Homo sapiens: one gene and its partners. The protein of the gene in region 2 interacts with the protein of the main gene of each other region in a pairwise test. Each region holds a gene or a part of one and is shown on either strand. Other genes may lie near its edges. The genes, in order: DNASE1L1, SERPINH1 and SERBP1.

Region 1 (3,819 bases), on a different chromosome or scaffold from region 2:
GCTGGGGTTTAAGTCCCAAAAGGCAGCAGGCCCTGGGGGGGTAGGGGGACGCTCAGGCAGCAGGGCACAGCTGAGGGGACAGGAGTGATAGCAGCAACAGAACAGTGAGGCTGAGAGGCTGGACGCTGTGCGCCTGGCTCAGCTTCAGCTCCACCTCCACGGGGTAGTGGTCACTGATGTTGAGGGCCTGGGAATGGGTGGTGGGGCAGTGTCAGTGCCCGGGGCCGAGGGGCTTCCCTGTGACCCTGCTGCTGCCCTCCCTCCTCATGCCAGCCCCATCCCTTCACCTCCTCCTCGGTGAGCTGGAAGCTCGTGGGGAAGTCAAAGGCAGCCGCAGTGTGCAGCAGACTCCGGCAGCGCTCCCCGTGCAGCACGACGCGGTCATAGGTGCAGTGGGTGCTGGCCCGCACTGTGGTGTCCTCCCCATCGGCAATCACCCAGTGGAAGCCTGGCTCAGTCCGCAGCTCCAGCTTGTCCAGGCGCTTTTTGGTCAGTGAAGCGCAGTCAGCATTGAAGTCCCCAAGCAGGATCACGTCCTAGAGACACAGCAGCCATCAGGCTGGCCGCTGGGCCACCCTATCCTTGTCCCTCCTGTACAAACTGCCCAGGCCTACCTTGCTCTGCCAGTGCTGGGAGACCTCCAGAAACACATCGTAGAGGGCGTTCAGCTCCTTCTCTACGGCCTTAGGAGTGGTGTGCAGCGGGACCAACACCAGGCTGGGAAGGACTGCAAGGCCCAGGGACCGAGGGCTGCCATCCACTCCTGGACCTTCTCCCCCTAGCCCGTCTGGGTGAGGAAGCCCCCAGTGGAGCCAGCCAGAACTCCCCTTCTGCTCCCACATACCAAGCCCACCCTTCCCTTCCTACCATTGCTGGGCAAAGAGAACTGGGCCACAAATGGCTCCCGGGCAAAGACGTCATCCTCATCGTTGTACACGTAGGAACTCAGGACCTGTGTTTTGTGTGACCTGGGAGGACAAAGGGATGGGCAGCAGTGGCCCCACGTCTTTGATTTTGGCTTGCAAGTGCCAAACGGCGCTCAGGGAGGGGCCCTCCACTAACAGCGGCAATGTGGGCACAGCCCTCCCAACCTGTCTCTAGAACTTTCAAAAATCAGGCATAATTCATATGCCATAAAATTCACCTGCTTCAAGTATACAACACGGTTCTTTTGTACATTCATAAGGCTGTGCAACTATTTCTACAATCAATTTTAAAACATTGGTATCCATTACTCCTAATAAAAACATAACATCCATTACCAGTTACTCTCCATTCTCCCCTCCCCCCAGCCCCTGCAACCATTAATCTGTTCTCTATCTTGTACATTTGCCTATTCTGGATATTTCATATGAATGAAATCAGCTCATCAATGTTTTCTGCGTTCGTCCATATGCTGTGGCACGTCTGTGCTTCATTCCTCTTTCTGGCTGAATAATATTCCACGGACTGGGTATAGTACATTTTGACATTTGGACACTTTGATGTCATTCTTTTTTTTTTTTTTTTTTTTTTTGAGACATGGTCTCACTCTGTTGCTCAGGCTGCAGTGCACTGGCACAATCATAGCTCACTGCAGCCTTGAACTCTTGGGTTCAAGTGATCCTGCTGCTTCAGCCTCCCAAAGCGTTGGGATTACAGGCATGAGCCACTGTACCCTGCCTACCCAGTAATTTTGGAGCGCATACCAGATGTCATATCATTTTATTTATATAGAGAATCAGTTCTCCTTCCCTGCAGCCTCCCTTGCCCTCTGGATCCTGACTCCAAAGGGCTCCCTGCCAGCCTGTCCTCCCAGGGACTTAGAAGATCGGGTCTACCCAAGGCCCATAAGTGGTCCCCACGGAGCCTCTTCCCAGGAGCTGCAGCCCTTGCTGGCCACTTTCATAGAGGGGGCCAGCCACACCCTGAGCCCCAGCAGCTCCCACAGGAGAGAGGAGGAGGGACCCCACATTTGTGCTTATAGAAGGAAGGCCTCCTGCTCTATGGACACTCTGGCGGGGGTCGAGGATGGGAAGAGCCCAGAATAAAAGGTGTTGAGAAGAGAAAGCATGCAAAGCAGGTGAGGCTGTCCCAGGATGGGGGGCCTGTGGCCCCGGGGACTAATGAGCCTACCTCACATTAGGGCCAAGGACCGCCCCCCACCCTGCTGCGCTGCCAGCTCCGTGCTCACCGATAGAAGTACACATACGTCTCCATGTAGGTGCTGCGCCCCAGCTGGGGGCTGCTCAGGGTGCTGTAGGGCCCAGAGCCATCAAATCTGCCAAGAAAAGGGGAGGCGGGGTCAGGGCCTCAAGCCTCTGGGTGTGCCCCTGATTAGACCCACAGAATCTTCCTCACCGATTGAGTTCTCGAAGCAGGAGCGGGATGGCGCTGCCGGAAGAGTCCACCACCTCCTGCAGCACCATGATGTCACAGCGAGCCAGTATCTGTGGGACATCAGGAAGGCCAGCCTGACTCAGTGCCAACTGCCCTGAGAGGAGGCAGTGGGCCCAGGGGACTGGCACTGTTGTGGCCCAGAGTGTTAAGGCTCACTGACTGCAGCCCACAGAAAGCAGTGGGACTGGAAATGCCCCAGGAAAAGACTCATCCCACCCACATGTCACCTGTTTCACAGAGGAGGAGACTGAGGCCAGCAGCAGGCAAGCGCCTGCGCTGCATCTCCGTGCCACACCTCTTCTTCTCCCCTCTTCTCTAGAACATACCCCTGGTCAGGCAGGGATGGGGGCTTTGGCTCATGGTGGTTAGGGGCACGGCTTCCCTGAAGTGATGAACTTACCCGAACTAAGGTGTCCATCACCTGCTCCCTGGCCACCTTGGCCAGTGTCAGCCGCTGGGCATTGAAGGCGCAGATGCGAAAGGCCTGGGCCCCATTGGCCAGGATGAGGAAGAGGAGTGCAGTTGGGTAGTGCATGGCTGTGTGTGGCTGCCGGGGACACCCCAGGAATCCAGGCTGCCCCAGGGTGCGCTCTCACTGGGCTCAGTTCTGGCTCTGGAAGCGCTGAAATATGGAACAGAGAAAGTGGCACTAGCTGCTGCCCAGCACCAGCCTCCCAGTGACCTCCCGAGATCATACCACTGCACTCCAGCCTGGGTGACAGAGTGAGACTCTGTCTCCAAAAAAAAAAATTGTTTTTGAGACAGAGTCTTGCTCTGTGAAGATCAAGCCAAGATCGCACCACTGCACTCCAGCCTGGGCGACAATAAGACTCCGTCTCAAAAAAAAGTGAAATCCTACAGTATTTGTCTTTTTGTGACTGGCTCATTTCACTGAGCAAAATGTCCTCAAGGGTCATTCATGTTGGAGCATATGTCAGAATTTTTTTTTTTTTTTTGAGACGGAGTCTCACTCTGTCGCCCAGGCTGGAGTGCAGTGGCGCAAACGCGGCTCACTGCAAGCTCCGCCTCCTGGGTTCACGCCATTCTCCTGCCTCAGCCTCCCGAGTAGCTGGGACTACAGGTGCCTGCCACACGCCCGGCTAATTTTTTGTATTTTTAGTAGAGATGGGGTTTCACCATGTTAGCCAGAATGGTCTTGATCTCCTGACCTCGTGATCTGCCCGCCTCGGCCTCCCAAAATGCTGGGATTACAGGCGTGAGCCACCGCACCCGGCTGTAGAATTTCTTTCCTTTTCATGGCTGAATCATATTCCATTGTCTGGGCATCTGGGTAGACCACATTTTGTTCATTCATTCATTCATCCATCCATCTGGTTTTTTTTTTTTTTTTTTGAGACGGAGTTTCGCTCTTGCTGCCCGGGCTGGAGTGCAATGGTGCGATCTCGGCTTACTGCAACCTCTGCCTCCCAGGTTCAAGCG
Region 2 (3,600 bases):
ACCCTGCTCCTCACAGCACCTACCTGTCCGGTGCATCATCATGACACCCACGGTATAGGACCGAGTCACCATGAAGCCACGGTTGTCCACCATCTTGTGGTGGAATTTCTCATCCCAGTGTGCTGTAGTTGGGGCAAAACACAGGGTCAGAGACACATGGCCGCCCCCAAACACAATCACAGCCCACAGCCACCCCCGGCTGCAGACCTTGATTTATCCTTGCCACAGGTCTTTGCTCCATTCTTCAGGGCCCAGCTATAGAGCACCCAGCCCACAGAGTCTATGTTCCCAGCTTTGGGAAGGGGTCTTGGCCCCAGGACATGCCATCTGAGGATGCGGTTCCCTACAGTCAGTGCCTGCTGCTCCCATATGATAGAGAATTAATTCCGCCCTCAGGTCAGCCACCTCTATGGCCACCCCCGGCTCTAGCACTTGTCAGATATTTTGGAAACATGCTCTGAGGTGGGCTTTCTACCCTCCCTGGTACCTGGGGGACAGCTGTGCCCTGGGCAGGGAGTGCCCCATGACCACCCTTAATTTTTTTTTTATCTTTTTCTTTTTGAGACAAGGTCCGTCCCACTCCATCCTACAGCTGGAGTGCAGTGGTACAATCATGACACACTGCAGTCTTGAATTCCCAGGCTCCAGCGATCCTCCCACCTCAGCCTCCAGAGTAGCTGGGACTACCAGCATGCGCCACCACGCCTGGCTAATTTTTTGTAGACATGGGGTTTCGCCATCTTACCCAGGCTGGTCTCAAATTCCTGGGCTCATGTGATCCACCCACCTTGGCCTCCCAAAGTGCTAGGATTACAGGCATGAGCTACTGTGCTCAGCCCACCCTTCGTTTTCCTCTGCAAGTTCTGTCTCCATGACCAGAAAATAACAACAAAAAATGTCTGAGAGTGGCCTGAACCCTGCCCTTGCTCACAGCCAGACCTGTGTTCCAATCCAAGCTCAGCCACTGACTCGGGGAGACCTCAGCTCTCCTAGCTTGGCCTCATTTGTAAAACGAGGGTTACTTCATTCTCACAGCAAACTGTGAGAATAGTGTTGTCTATGGAGGTACTCAAAAATATTTATTAACCCTACATCTAATCTTCAACTGAAGACAGAGGCATCTGGGCCTGAGGCCTGGCTCTGCTTCCTCCTTGCTGAGCCTCAGTTTCCTCACTGTGAAATGAAGGTAACACTGCCTGCCCCCAAGGTTGCTTTAAGGATTCTGGGTCTTGGCCGCACATGGTGGCTCGCACCTGTAATCCCAGCACTTTGGGAGGCCGAGGCGGGCAGATCACTTGAGACCAAAAGTTTGAGACCAGCCTGGCCAACATGGCAAAACCCCGTCTCTAGTAAAAATACAAAAATTAGCTGGGTGTGGTGGTAGGCACCTGTAACCCCAGCTACTCAGGAGGCTGAGGCAGGAGAATTGCTTGAAGCCCGGAGGCCAAGGCTGCAGTGAGCTGAGATCGTGCCATTGCACTCCAGCCTGGGTGACAGAGTGAGACTCCATCTCAAAATAAAAATAATTTTAAAAAAAGGATTTGAGTTCTTTCTCTAGCTCACTACTGAGGCAGAATGGATTATTAAATGTTATTCATTCCAAGATACACAAGGACGAGCACTTTGACGAAATTCGGTCGGAATACATTCCATGGAGTCCCTCTGGGGCCTCCGCTCCCTGAACCATTCCTTTACACGCTGCTACCTGTCTCTGAATCTAGTTTCCAGTCTGTACAAAAAGCTGAGTGACAGTCCTGCCTCCCTGGGTTGTCACAGCATAAATGAGAGGCAGTGAAGAATGGAGCGCACGGAATGTCGTCCTAACTCTTGCAGGGGGTCCTGGGAGGAGGAGGAGGACCCCTGAACGCGCCCCCGACTCACGCTTGAAGAACATGGCGTTGACTAGCAGGGCGCCGTCCGTGCGCTCCACGTCCTTGGTGACCTCGGGCAGCTTGCCGTCGGTGGTCTGCGCGGCCCACTCGTTGATGGACTGCAGCGCGCTGCGCTTGTCGCGGAAGTTGATCTTGGAGTGCTCGCAGTTGTAGTGCTGCTTGCTGCTGCGCACGAAGTCATCAGCGAAGCTCACTGAGCTGGGTCCGTACAGTCGGCTGCCCAGCTTCCAGGTCACGTTGCGCGCCGTGGAGTTGCTGAGTGAGCGCAGCAGCTCGCCCAGGCCGGCGTGCACCTCCTCGTCGCGCAGCTGCTCGGCGCTCAGCACTGCCTTGGCCTGCGACGCCGTGGTCGCCTTGCCGCCCAGCGACACGAGCCCTAGCGACGAGGCCACCACCACGGGTGACACCAGGATGTTCTCCACTGCCTGGTCCTTGGCCATGGCCTGGTACAAGCTGAAGGCCAGGCCGGCGCTGCGCTCGGCAAGCGTGGCCGCCTTGGGGCTCAACTTCTCCGCAGTGCCAGGAGCTGCTGCGGCTGCAGGTTTCTTCACCTCGGCGGCCAGGGCCGCCTCCAGGAGGCAGAAGGCGCTGAGAAGCAGGAGGGAGCGCATGGCCAGGAAGTGGTTTGCGTGCACCACGGTGGGCCTGTGAGGATTGCACAGACAGGGTGGTCTTGAAGCCCAAGGCCTTCCTCCCCAACAACCACCCTCAGCTCTCTGGCTGCCACAAGTCCCCTGGAGATGGGGGCAAGAGAGCCCACAGTCCAGGAATCCCAGACTTGACTCAGAGCTGCCAGCCTCTCAGAGGCCTCTGTTACCTCCCTACTCAAAGAAGCATTCCCAGCAAGTCACCACCAGACCACCTTATTGATTTCCTGCATCGGCCAGCCAACACTTCCACTTATTTGTGTGTTTATTTCATAACTATTTCTGCTCCTAAGTAGGCTGTGGCCTCCAGGACAGAAAAGCTAGCCAATCTGGTTGCCACTATATCTCCCGTGCCTAGTACACAGTAGGCCTCAGCTCTTCCTGAACGAAGGTAAAACAGGGTCACTTGGCCAGACCTGGGGTCCTCATCAGTTTATAGAGTGGTCAGCCCTGATCTCACATAGCCCTGGGAGCCCTTTTCCAGTGAGAAAAAGCAGCAGCTGAGCTGAGAATCTGCAGGAAACCCAGATGCCTGGGCAAGGGATGAGGGACAGAGCCGGAGGGCTGCCCCGCCCCCATGCCTTTCATTCTGCTCTGGGATGTTAATGAGTCACCAGTTGGGTCACTCATTAAATGGGGAGCCAAGATGCTCCACTTTGCTGCCCCAAGGGTGACCCTGAGAGTGTGTGTGTGTGTGTCCTGTGTCCACTCAGCCTCAGTCTCCCTTTTCCAAGCTGAAAGGTCCAGGTCTCCATGCCCATGGCTTCTGTCTGGGCAGGAACTTGGAATGCCCATCTACCCACAGTGCTCCCAGTGCGGATGGGAAATCCCCAGGACAAAAGCTCCTGGGGGACCAACTCCTTTGAAGACTCGGTGGGGCTGGGGAGGAGGCTTCCTGACATAGCACAAGGACAGGATACTAGGGAAAAGGGTGAGTCACACATAGCTCAATAGAGCAGTGACCCCCTTCCCCATCACCAGCAGCTGGCCAGATGTGCACTCAGCCTTCAAAGAAGCTGGAGCCACATCAGATTCCATTCTGCCCTCCAATCTGACAGCCA
Region 3 (3,819 bases), on a different chromosome or scaffold from region 2:
ACTGTTACAGAATTCAACTAAAGCTAAAGAGAAACAACTCCTTTCAGAGAAGCACGTGGCAGGAAGGGGTAATTTCAACTTTCAACATATAAATGCAGCTTTAAAGATTCAGACCTTAGGTCCAACACCTGCTTGCTATTGATCATGCACGTTCTTATCTCCAAACTGCTTGCTCTTTTTTTTCATCCGCAACAAACTGGTAAAGCGAATGCAAAAATCAAGACAATCCTGTGAAACTCACAGTGCCCTAGAAACAACTATTAACCGCCAGTGAAACTCTGACCATGCTTCACGCACATGTGGTGGAAAAAAAAAACTGCGAACTCTAAAGAGCTCTGCTGCGACTAACGCTGTGACAGCCTCTGCACTCACTTCACCCACGAGGCCCAGACCCCACCACGTGAAAGATTCAGTTTGGGGAGTCGAGAGAGAGGATCGTGACTCGAGGACGTTCCTCGGGATGTCCTGCAATCACCAGTCTTCATTCATAATTCCCGCTCCTGGTTAATCGAGTGTGGCCAAACTCCTCCATTTCCCAACGGCTCAACTCACCCCAGCAAGTTATGAGAAAGTCCTAACAGTTGAGAGGTGGAAGAGAAACAAATAAAGGACATGCGGCACCCCAACCTGCAGCTTACTCCACACGTCTGATGGCCTGGAACGACCCCCTGCTTTTCAGCGGGGATACTCCGCGCCGTCGTGGGACAAGACGGCAGGACAGGAGCCTGAAACAACAGCACCTCAAAGGAGCAGCTCTGCGCAGTAAGCAGCGATGGACCCCCAAGCTCCTCCGTAACTACGGAAAGCTTCGGTGAGGGGCCGGCTTCCCCGCACCTCAGTCCATGCGCTCACCCGCCAAGGAATCCGGCGGGAAGGCAACAGCCTCCCAGGACCTCGAGCGCGCTCGAGGAGCAGCTCATCTCCGACCACGCTCCTCTGCTCACAACCTGAGGCGGGAAGGGGATGGCTCCGAGAACCTCGCCGGCGGTGGCTTGAACTTGGGGCTACCACGCTCCTGGCACCTTCGCAGGACCGGACTTTTGTCGCGTGAAGAAACGTGAGGATATAGGCGGCAAAGTCTCCCGCGGACCCTCGGAGCTCCAGAAACAAGTGGCAGCCGGCAGCCCCCTCGCTCCTTCCCTCCATCCCAGTCTCCCCCACATTCTGCCCCTGCTTTACCTTCTTTCTTAAGCGCCACGGGCGGCTGCGTCTCCTCTTTCTTGTCAACCACGCCAACGCTGGGGGGCAGCGGGTTCTTGCGGTCTTTCTGGGACTCCTTGCGCAGCTGTTTGCCTGCCGCGTTGGAGTTGGTCTGGGCCGCGGCCTGAGCTGCGCTCTTGGCCCCAGGGCCCCCAACGCCGCCCCCGCCGGCTTCTTTTTTCTTGTTCTCTGCTGCCTTCAGCACCTCGAAGGGGTCCGATTCGTCGTCAAATAACTGGTCGAATCGGTTGGTGACCACGCAGCCGAAGCCTTCCTGTAAGTGCCCAGGCATGATGGTGGCTCGGCGGCGCGTTCCTCCACGGATTGCAGCGGGCCGCGCCGAGCCAAGAGCGCCTGCTTCAGCTCTTCCCACAAGATGGCCGGGCCGAGAGAGGGGGGCCGTCTTCTCTTCCGGCGCCAGGCACACATCCGGGAGCGGCCTGCGCCGCAAGGCACTGTGGGGTATGTAGGCCAGAGTCATTTCTCCTGAGGCGACTCTCCGCGTCGGGACTACAATTCCCAGGACGCACCGCGCGACAACTCTTCGCGCGCGCCTGAGAGGCGAGACCCCATGAGGGGAGTGAAGCGTGCGGGCTGAAGGAAGGGAAGCGTGGTGGTGGGCGGAGTCCTGCCACCTGCTCTGGCCACCCTTAAACTCTCTAGGTCTTCAGCTACCTTGAAACCAAAAAACCGTGACGGCGTAACTGACTCGCGAAAGTGCTCTTTGGTTTCACTCACGCCCCCTCGGGCTCAGGGCTAACTTTCCCCACCGCTCCAGGGGGGTCAAGGTGACTCCCAGACCTTACATCTGAGACGCACAAACTTCCGGGGGAGGGGGTGTTGCTGAGGCGCCGCGCCGGCCGCGGGTAGGCTGGACCCTGCCTGTGCCAAGTCCGAGCTGCTCAGTTGCTGGAGTGGCCCTCCGTCAGCCTCCACGGTGAATCGAGGCTCTTCTGTCTAATGTGAGGGGGAATACGTTTCCTCTCGCGGGGACATGAACTAGGGTAGCAGAACTAACCAAAAAGACAAGTGAAACTATCACATGGGAGCGTGGCGCGTCTTTCCCGGGCTTCTCACCGTGTGGCGGCGGGTGTCGTAGGAGTGGTTAACTCCTGACGGTGCAGCGCTAGACGCGGGGCAAGCCTCCAGGAAGCACTGTTTATAGAAACCCTGTTACAATTATTCCAATTAATCGTCCGTTCGTGTCCGGCAAGTCAGGGCTTAGGTGGCTGTGTTGTTAGTCACATGCGCTCAATACATATCATTTGAGAACATTTCGAGTGCATGTGTGCTAGGAGTTGCGGTGAGGGGAGGGAAATATTGAAGTCAACACTTAATAATGACAAAGCATTGATACTAGTTGAGAATATTAAAATTCATTAAAAGAATACAATTTGAATGCGTATTTAAGCACATTTGGTAGCACCGGGTTTAAGTATATCATAATTTTTAAGTCCTTTTCCATTAACACAAAGTAGCAAATGCATCGCTTATTTGGTAGGAGCTATGAATAACCTTGAACTCAACATTTTGTTAGGCAAATAGTTTGCCTCTTTTCACAAATGTTGAAACCACTTCAGAGATGAAATGATTTACCAAATTCACACCTCTGTAAGTGCTAGTGACAGGCATTAGCCCAGTATTCTATCTCCACTAGGAGACTGGACATCAGCTCTTTAATTCAGACTGCCCTGATAGAAAGCAGTCCAATTTTTAAATTTCCGATATAATTTAAACATTGTTGCGTGTCAGGATATGTAACATGGCGGAATGTAATCATCAATTTCCGAGCAGATTTTAAATCAATTCCTTAGCAGGGAAAATAGAAGACACGAGTCATATTACATACATGGGGCAGCAAGCCTCCTGGTTTTCTTGTTTCTCAATCCTCCCCTATTCCTCACTTATTTCCCTGCTGCCTCAGTCCTGCACCCTGCCCACAACGCCCAACCTCAAACACACCCCCTATCTCATCCCCCCTTCCACAGGCTCTGGTTCTGTGGCACCTACCAAGACAAGGAGCTTTTGACCATACTCTTCCCACCTTTTTGAAATAGCTCAAGTGCAATGTAGAAGATCTCCACATTTTGACAGATTTTCTCTCTTCACGGGCTGTTGCGTCTCTGAGACTGCCTGCATCTTTGAGACATCTGTGAAAGCTCCTCTTCTTAACTCTTTCTGGCCACGGCCACAGTAACAATATTCATACTAAAACGTGATGTTTTAGTGTGTGCTTGGTGCACTTTACATACGTGATCTCCTTTAAACCTTACATCAACTCTATAAGAAAGTTATTACTCCATACCTCCCCCCCGCAAAAAAAAAGTTATTGCTCCTGTTTTAAGATTAGGAAAATGAAAACAAAGAGCTTAAGTAAGTTAACTACTCCTGCCACAATCTGGGGGGTGGGGCAGGCCTGTTGTTATTCATTTTTCTCCTCCATTACAGATTTCTGGTTTGCTCAAACAGAGCTTCGTAACCACCAAGCATTATTACAATAAGAATATTTGAAAATAAGCTACACATAGAGGAATTTTCTGGCTATGAATTTATGAGGTTCATTTATGCTCTTCAGAGAATTTACCTATTAAGATTACATAAAAATGTTATGAATAAGCA

The links.
Region 1: the proteins of SERPINH1 (region 2) and DNASE1L1 interact in binary tests that used the Homo sapiens proteins (3 or more experiments, as listed by UniProt).
Region 3: the proteins of SERPINH1 (region 2) and SERBP1 interact in binary tests that used the Homo sapiens proteins (3 or more experiments, as listed by UniProt).

Annotation. Positions count from the first base shown.
Region 1 is NC_000023.11:154,402,655-154,406,473, forward strand, and holds part of DNASE1L1 (deoxyribonuclease-1-like 1 precursor), read right to left. Parts: intron 3,002-3,819; 5' UTR 2,915-3,001; coding exon 2,780-2,914; intron 2,430-2,779; coding exon 2,341-2,429; intron 2,261-2,340; coding exon 2,174-2,260; intron 969-2,173; coding exon 868-968; intron 728-867; coding exon 615-727; intron 537-614; coding exon 288-536; intron 188-287; coding exon 53-187; 3' UTR 1-52.
Region 2 is NC_000011.10:75,565,253-75,568,852, reverse strand, and holds part of SERPINH1 (serpin H1 isoform 1 precursor), read right to left. Parts: intron 2,538-3,600; 5' UTR 2,504-2,537; coding exon 1,882-2,503; intron 123-1,881; coding exon 24-122; intron 1-23.
Region 3 is NC_000001.11:67,428,809-67,432,627, forward strand, and holds the start of SERBP1 (SERPINE1 mRNA-binding protein 1), read right to left. Parts: upstream 1,595-3,819; 5' UTR 1,493-1,594; coding exon 1,180-1,492; intron 1-1,179. UniProt on the Homo sapiens protein: Ribosome-binding protein that promotes ribosome hibernation, a process during which ribosomes are stabilized in an inactive state and preserved from proteasomal degradation.